2 linked regions of the Homo sapiens genome follow. The protein of the gene in region 1 purifies or fractionates together with the protein of each later gene. This does not show direct contact. Each region holds a gene or a part of one and is shown in the gene's direction. Other genes may lie near its edges.

Region 1 (4,270 bases):
CGATTCTCCTTCCTCAGCCTCCTGAGTAGCTGGGACAACAAGTGTGCGCCTCCAAGCCTGGCTAATTTTTGTATTTTTAGTAGAGATGGGGTTTCACCATGTTGGCCAGGATGGTCTTGATCTCTTGACCTTGTGATCCGCCCGCCTCAGCCTCCCAAAGTGCTGGGATTACAGGCATGAGCCACCGCACCCGGCCAACATCTTAGAATCTTGAGCTGAGGAACCTTTAAAAGTCTGATGCCGGCCGGGCGCGGTGCTCATGCCTGTAATCCCAGCACTTTGGGAGGCCAAGGTGGGCGGATCACGAGGTCAGGAGTTCGAGACCAGCCTGGCCAACATGGTGAAACCCCATCTCTACTAAAAATGCAAAAATTAGCTGGGCATGGTGGCGGGTGCCTTTAATCCCAGCTACTCGAGAGGCTGAGGCAGGAGAATCGCTTGAACCCGGGAAGCAGAGGTTGCAGTAAGTGGAGATTGCGCCATTGAACTCCAGCCTGGGCGACAGGGCAAGACTCCGTCTCAAAAAAAAAAAGTCTGATGCCCCTAAGTTTGGGTATACATTAGAAGCACCATGGTGTTTGTAAATGCTTTGTTATTTCTTTATTGTAGAGACAGTCTCACTATGTTGCCCAGGTTGGTCTCGAACTCCTAGCCTCAAGCAATCCTCCTGTCTTGACCTCCCAAAGTGCTGAAATTACAGGCGTGAGCCACCTTGGCCACTCTGTTTTCTTTTTCTTTTTCTTTTTTTTTTTTTTTTTTTGTTGTTTGTTTTAAATGAAACCCTCTAGGCCTCATTTTCAGTGATTTTGATTAGGTGGACTGGAAGAGACACTCCTCTAATAGTTCCACCAAACAGTCACAGGAACAAGAAAGGCACATCAGGAAAAGCCACACAGGAAATGGTTTTGCCAAAAGCCAAAAACCATGAGCAGGCAAAAACCAAAGTAAATTCTCTGTAAGTCACAAAATGAAGCATACATCTTTTTTTTCTTTGAGATGGAGTTTCGCTCTTGTTGCCCAGGCTGGAGTGCAGTGGTGCAATCTCGGCTCACTGCAACCTCCACCTCCCGGGTTCAAGCGATTCTCCTGCCTCAGCCTCCCAAGTAGCTGGGATTACAAGCACCCACCACCACGCCCTGCTAATTTTTGTATTTTCAATAGACATTGGGTTTTGCCATGTTGGCCAGGCTGGTCTTGAACTTCTGACCTCAGGTGATCTGCCCACCTTGGCCTCCTAAAGTGCTGGGATTACAGGTGTGAGCCACTGTGCCCGGCCACATACATCTTTCAAAAAGAAATACTAGTGAGAAGGGCCATCCACTCTCCGTACATCCTCTCCTGTGATTTGCTGTGAGACGTATGGCTGCCTTTGGGAAGCTCCTTGTATGAGAGGGGACAGAACCTGAGTCTGAGAAGCAGAGCTCAGACCCTAAGGGAGAATGGGCCACTGCCCCAGGGAGCTCCCTGAGGTTGACGGGCAACTGGATAACACACTCTGCTAAATGGAAGTTAATGACTGAAAGTGAATCATGTGCTTGCTGTAAGGAAATTATGCAAACTTCACTGTAGTGAGTTCTTTCAGGTTCTCTTGGGTATGGGGAGACATGGACCAGAATAAGCCTTCTCTAGCTTGCTCAGAGTGCCAAGGTCCTCAGTGTCTGGGTGAAGGATATGACAATACCCTCCTCTCTCCCTTCTTGGCCTCAGGATGTCCCTTTGGCTTGATCTAGAGCCTGTCTGAATTAAAGTCTCTGCCCCTCACCTCACCTCTAGATTAAAGTTGTCTCCCAGTGAGGAAACACTCTCCAGAAGGCATGTGGGGGGAGTAGCCTGGGTGCTGCAAATGGGATGACCCCCTCCTCACTCCTATTGCATCTTCTCCTGCCCCTACCCCCAGCTGCCCTGTCAAACCCTGTTCCTGACCGATGAGGAGAAGCGTCTGCTGGGGCAGGAAGGGGTTTCCCTGCCCTCTCACCTGCCCCTCACCAAGGTAACATGCTTCCCCTAAGGGTATCCCAACCCAGGGGCCTCACCATGACCTCTGAGGGGCCAATATCCCAGGAGAAGCATTGGGGAGTTGGGGGCAGGTGAAGGACCCAGGACTCACACATCCTGGGCCTCCAAGGCAGAGGAGAGGGTCCTCAAGAAGGTCAGGAGGAAAATCCGTAACAAGCAGTCAGCTCAGGACAGTCGGCGGCGGAAGAAGGAGTACATTGATGGGCTGGAGAGCAGGTACGCCTGGGTTATTTCTGGCTTCTTGTGGGCCATGTCTGGGCCCCTTCCTCACCATGGGAGGCAAGGTAAGGGACTCAGGTTGCTGAGCCTTGTCCTACCTCCCTACATTCTAGGGTGGCAGCCTGTTCTGCACAGAACCAAGAATTACAGAAAAAAGTCCAGGAGCTGGAGAGGCACAACATGTGAGTGAAAGCATTGTGTGTGTATGTGTGTTTTGAAGGCAGGTACAGCACACAGGGGTGCCATTCTTGGCCCCTGGTACCCAGATGATACTAACTCTTCATTCCTCCTTTCCCAGCTCCTTGGTAGCTCAGCTCCGCCAGCTGCAGACGCTAATTGCTCAAACTTCCAACAAAGCTGCCCAGACCAGCACTTGTGTTTTGGTACCATTAGTCTATCTACTCCCATCTCCCCCCACACTTCTATCCTTATACCCCGACTACCCGGCCAGATCTACTTCCCACATCCGATAACCCCAGCTGGCCTCCGTTCACTCTACCCCCTGCTCCCTTCATCTGTTCCTCTTGCTTCCTCCCAGATTCTTCTTTTTTCCCTGGCTCTCATCATCCTGCCCAGCTTCAGTCCATTCCAGAGTCGACCAGAAGCTGGGTCTGAGGATTACCAGCCTCACGGAGGTGAGAGGCAAGGGCAGGGAGCAACCCCTGGCTGAGCAAGGGAGGGGGACTCTGTTCTCCAAGGTCGTCAAGAAGCAAGAGGGAGGTCCTGTCCTGTCTAGGGTCTCCCACCCAGGGGAGCACTCTACTACTGCCCTCTTGCCTTCACCTCACAGTGACTTCCAGAAATATCCTGACCCACAAGGACGTAACAGAAAATCTGGAGACCCAAGTGGTAGAGTCCAGACTGAGGGAGCCACCTGGAGCCAAGGATGCAAATGGCTCAACAAGGACACTGCTTGAGAAGATGGGAGGGAAGCCAAGACCCAGTGGGCGCATCCGGTCCGTGCTGCATGCAGATGAGATGTGAGCTGGAACAGACCTTCCTGGCCCACTTCCTGATCACAAGGAATCCTGGGCTTCCTTATGGCTTTGCTTCCCACTGGGATTCCTACTTAGGTGTCTGCCCTCAGGGGTCCAAATCACTTCAGGACACCCCAAGAGATGTCCTTTAGTCTCTGCCTGAGGCCTAGTCTGCATTTGTTTGCATATATGAGAGGGTACCTCAAATACTTCTGTTATGTATCTGTGATTTTATTTCTTCTTTGGGTATAGGGTTGAGGGGAAATAAGTTTTGAGTGAGAAATAAACGTTTTAGCTGAAATTGTATCCCAGAAGTTTGAAATAAGTAGTAGAAGAGGGGGAAAACAAGGGAGAAGTGGTGGGGAAGACTTGGTAGATTGGGGCCTTAAGTAACCACCTCCTTTCCCTCTCTGCCCCCATGACTTCCTGCTCCAAGTTACAGAAGGGAAGGAAACCATTTTACTCTTTTTATTCTGCTCATTAATGATCTGAAAGAAGAAGATGGGGAAAAGGGGATTCCACCACAAGGCTCCAAAGAACCAAGAGTGCAAATCAGTCCATTTCACTTTCACTGTCTGAGATAGGGTCTCTAAGACCCAGGATACAAGGGTGGAATGTAGCTATATGGACTCGATTTGCTTCCGGACCTTTTCCAGAGCCTTTCTGTCCAATTGTCGCTGACGAATGATGACAAGACAAGCGAAGATCAGGGCCACACACACGACAGCCCCTTCGAACTTCCAAAATAAGCGTTGTTCCATCAAAGCTGAGCGGCAGCTGAGGGCAGGAAGGAATAGTTATTCCCAAGGAAGGCCAGACAGCTTCTCCCTCTAATTTCCCTTCTACTTCAGCCTAGCCAGGATACACTCAAGAGGAAATCAGAGCCAGGCTTCTATTGTGTGTATAGTACATAAATCCCTCTCAAATAGATCATTTAATTTATTCTCTGGATAAGCAGAGCTAGTATTAACCAATTTTACTGATGAGAAAATATGGCCAATAACATAGTGCTGAGGAGTAGAGCTGGGACTTGGGTTCAAGTAATTTGGCTCCAAATC
Region 2 (3,812 bases), on another chromosome or scaffold:
ACCTAATCTATGACAATTTAAGTATTCAGGCTATGATGCCCCAAATTTGTTTTTTTCCCTAGCTGTTACTTTCAAGTCTAATTTCTAGGCAACTCATTTCAAAACAAATGCTGACTTTGGGTTTTTTGTTTTTTTTTGTTTGTTTGTTTTTTTGACTGACTGTTCTTAGTTGTTTGAATTCTGAAGTATCCATTCTAGCTCTTATGGAAGCTGTCAGTAATGAAATAAAAGTTGAGATGTAGCCCTAAGCTTTTAGGGTTACCTGAGATTTCAACTGGATTTGCGTTATACATTATTTTAATTCAGTTGTGCCTATGATAACTGTAATAGATGTATTTAATACAGCTTTCAAAACTCCTGTGTTTTAATTGAATTCTATTCCTCTTGGTCCATTCGCTTAGGATTTAGGATATAGCACTATTTTTTAAAAATTTGCTTGCTTGTTTGTTTGTTTGTTTATTTATTTATTTATTTATTTATTTTTGAGACAGAGTCTCGCTCTGTTGCCCAGGCTGGAGTGCAGTGGCGCGATCTCGGCTCACTGCGACCTCCGCCTCCCAGGTTCAAGCAATTCTTCTGCCTCAGCCTCCCGAGTAGCTGGGACTACAGGTGCATAACGCCATGCCCGGCTAATTTATTGTATTTTAGTAGAGACGGGGTTTCACCGTATTGCCCAGGCTGGTCGTGAACTCCTGAGCTCAGGCAGTCCACCCACCTTGGCCTCCCAAAGTGCTGGGATTACAGGCAGCACTAACGTTAAGGAAAGTAAAATCAGTTATTTTAGTTCGAATGTCTTGCAGGTATGATAAGCATATTATAATTGATGAGTCTCTTGATAATTATACTCAGGTATTTTGGGGGTTAATGTGGACTATGGTAAAAGTGTGTGAAGAACTGAGGTGGTGGCATTTATGGAGTAAAAAATGCATAGTACAAACCCAGTACTTTAATGTTTTCTTGAAATGTAAAATGAAAGCCACCTGTTCTATTCCCCCCATACTCATGGACCATATTTATGTCTAGGTGAATAATCTTAAAGAATAATTATTTCTTCTCATTTTATCTTTGTTACATGGAAGAATCTACTGCAAACAACAGAGTTTTGAGAATTTTTAATGTTTTACACAATATGCACGTAAGTTTGTGCCTTGGGGTTTTTAAGAATTTTCTTCCACAAGTCACAAAGATTTTTTTCCACATTTTCTTCTATTTGCTTTATGGTTTTACCTTTCACATTTATGTCTTTAATGTATCTGGGCTTCACTTCTGTATATAGTATTTGGTGGGAATTCATTTTTAACTTTTTTCTCCGTATATGGAGCCACTCCCAAGGGTTTGTTGTTTCCTCACTGGTGTATGGGGCAGCCTTAATTAGACAGTGGGTTTGCTTTTGCACCTGGATCTGGCCAGTCTTCTGTCTGATTCATCTTTTTCTGAATCCCAGCGCCATACATGTTTGTTATCTCATAAAACAAGTTCCCCTTGTCTTTTTTCTCAGTTTGATACAGAGTTAGTTTTTTGTGCACGATTATTCTTTCATATGCATTTGGAATAAGTTTGAGTTTCTAAATAGTAGTAGTAATAATAATAATAATAAAACCAATGATGAGACTGCATTAATTTTTTTTTTCTTGAGATGGAGTCTCGCTCTGTTGCCCTGCCTGGAGTGCAGTGGCACGATGGCTCACTGCAAGCTCCACCTCCCGGGTTCACGCCATTCTTCTGCCTCAGCCTCCCAAGTAGCTGGGACTACAGGCGCCTGCCACCATGTCCGACTAATTTTTTTGTATTTTTAGTAGATACAGGGTTTCACCATGTTCGCCAGGATGGTCTCGATCTCCTGACCTCATGATCCGCCCACCTCAGCCTCCCGAAGTGCTGGGATTACAGGCATGAGCCACCATGCCCAGCCAAGACTGCATTTAATTTAGGGAGAGCTGAAGTCTTCATAATGTTAAGTTGACCTATCCCAAACCATAGAAAGTCTTGTTTATTCAGATCTCATTTTACTTCTTTTAACAGTTGAACATTTTTCTTTTTATTTATTTATTTATTTATTATACTTTAAGTTTTAGGGAACAGTTGAACATTTTTCTTCACGGAGATCTTGCATATTCTTTCTTTAGTTGGTTCCTAAGTACTTTATGGGTTTTGTTGCCATTACAATGGTACCTTATTTTGTATTGTATTTTCTAATTGTTGCTGGTGTAGAGAAATACGGATTATTTTAAGTCGATCTTTTATCTATTAACTTTGCTGAACTCTAATTACTTCTAATAATTTACTGATTCTTTGTGATTCGGTCTGTGATCCTATGTGAATGTTTATACAAATAGTGATGTTTTGTTTCCTCCCTTCCAATCTTTATTCCTGTTTTCTTTTTCTCTTTTTTTCTTTTCCTTAAATAATCATGGCCAGGAGCTCCAGTTTAAACACAGCAAGGCCAGTGGGCATTCTTGTCTTCCTGAACTTAGTGGCAGTGTTCCCTGCCCTCCTTCTCCCTTCATCTCACTGAAGGGCCCTGTCAGCTTCTTTGTGGATTCTCAGTGCCTGTCTTGGCTGATGCCTCAGCAGTATTTAACACTGTCGACTTCTGCTTCCTCCACTTCCTGAGACTGTGTCCTCCTTGCTCTTCTCTCTCTGCTGCTTCTCTGTCAGTCCTGTTGCTGGGCTAAGCTTCCCCTGCCCCTGTCCTGAGTGTTTCAGTGATCCTCAGGCTCACTCCCCCACCCTCTTCCTGCTGAGCTCCCTCCCTGAAGGACTCCCTCCCACGCTGGCTTCAGTTCACTGTGACTATGTCCTGACTCCAGCTGGTTCCTTAGATGGCCACACATACCTCTGACTCCTAAAATCCACTCTTCCTATCTTCAGTGATTGACCACTACTATCCTTGATGCCAGAAACCTAGGTGTTGTCCAGTATTCTTCCCAGTCTCCATTCAAAGTCACTGTGTAGATTCTTCTGCCTGGCTGAGCCATGAATGCTTCTGCCACTCCACAGCCCTCTGTCCTGGCCCTGGCCCTGGCCTGGGTGCTATCCCTCTGACCCAGGCTACCCCTGTGGGCTACAGTCTCCGGCAGCCACCGGAAGCTGGCTATTGTGGAACAGCTTTCTGATCCTCCTAATCATGCCAGAGGCAGCAGCTCCCTTCTTGGCTCAGTTTTTTGGGAATTGTTCCTGAAAGTTCAGCTAAACTCTTCATTCCTCACAGTGATTCTGGGAGCCACTGATAGTTCTTAAAAACAGCAGTTTCTTGCCCCCAACATCTCCATTACTGCATTGCACTTGTTTTGTTTTGTTTCGTTTTGTTTTGTTTTGAGACAGAGTCTCACTCTCTTGGCCAGGCTGGAACACAGTGATGTGATCTTAGCTCACTGCAACCTCTGTCTCCTGGGCTCAAGCATTTCTCCTGCCTCAGCTTCCCGAGTAGCTGGGATTACAGGCATGTACCACCATGCCCAGCTAATTTTTGTATTTTTAGTAGAGACGGGGTTACACCATGTTGGCCAGGCTGGTCTTGAACTCCTGAGTTTAGGTAATCCGTCCATCTCGGCATCCTAAAGTGCTACGATTATAGGCATGAGCCACCACACCTGGTGTCTGGGGTCTTTTTAATAAGGGCACTAATCCTGTTCACAAGGGTGTCACCCTCATGACCTCATCACCTCTCAGAGGTTCCACCTCCAAATACTATTGCATTGGAGGTGAGGATTTCAACAGAGGAAATTGGGTGGGGATACAAACATTCAGTCTATAGCATCCACTCAAAAGCATCCATCAATGTCTGTGACCTGTTAGACAAAGCTCCAAAT

The links.
Region 2: the proteins of CREB3L4 (region 1) and CREM purify together in Homo sapiens (affinity purification with western blotting, with the first as the bait; one study listed by BioGRID). This does not show direct contact.

What each region holds. Positions count from the first base shown.
Region 1 is NC_000001.11:153,970,847-153,975,116, forward strand, and holds the end of CREB3L4 (cyclic AMP-responsive element-binding protein 3-like protein 4), read left to right. Parts: intron 1-1,897; coding exon 1,898-1,990; intron 1,991-2,125; coding exon 2,126-2,232; intron 2,233-2,348; coding exon 2,349-2,417; intron 2,418-2,533; coding exon 2,534-2,618; intron 2,619-2,773; coding exon 2,774-2,870; intron 2,871-3,025; coding exon 3,026-3,219; 3' UTR 3,220-3,513; downstream 3,514-4,270. Other genes in the region: protein JTB precursor, read right to left, coding at 3,833-3,989. UniProt on the Homo sapiens protein: Transcriptional activator that may play a role in the unfolded protein response. Binds to the UPR element (UPRE) but not to CRE element.
Region 2 is NC_000010.11:35,189,050-35,192,861, forward strand, and holds part of CREM (cAMP-responsive element modulator), read left to right. Parts: intron 1-3,812.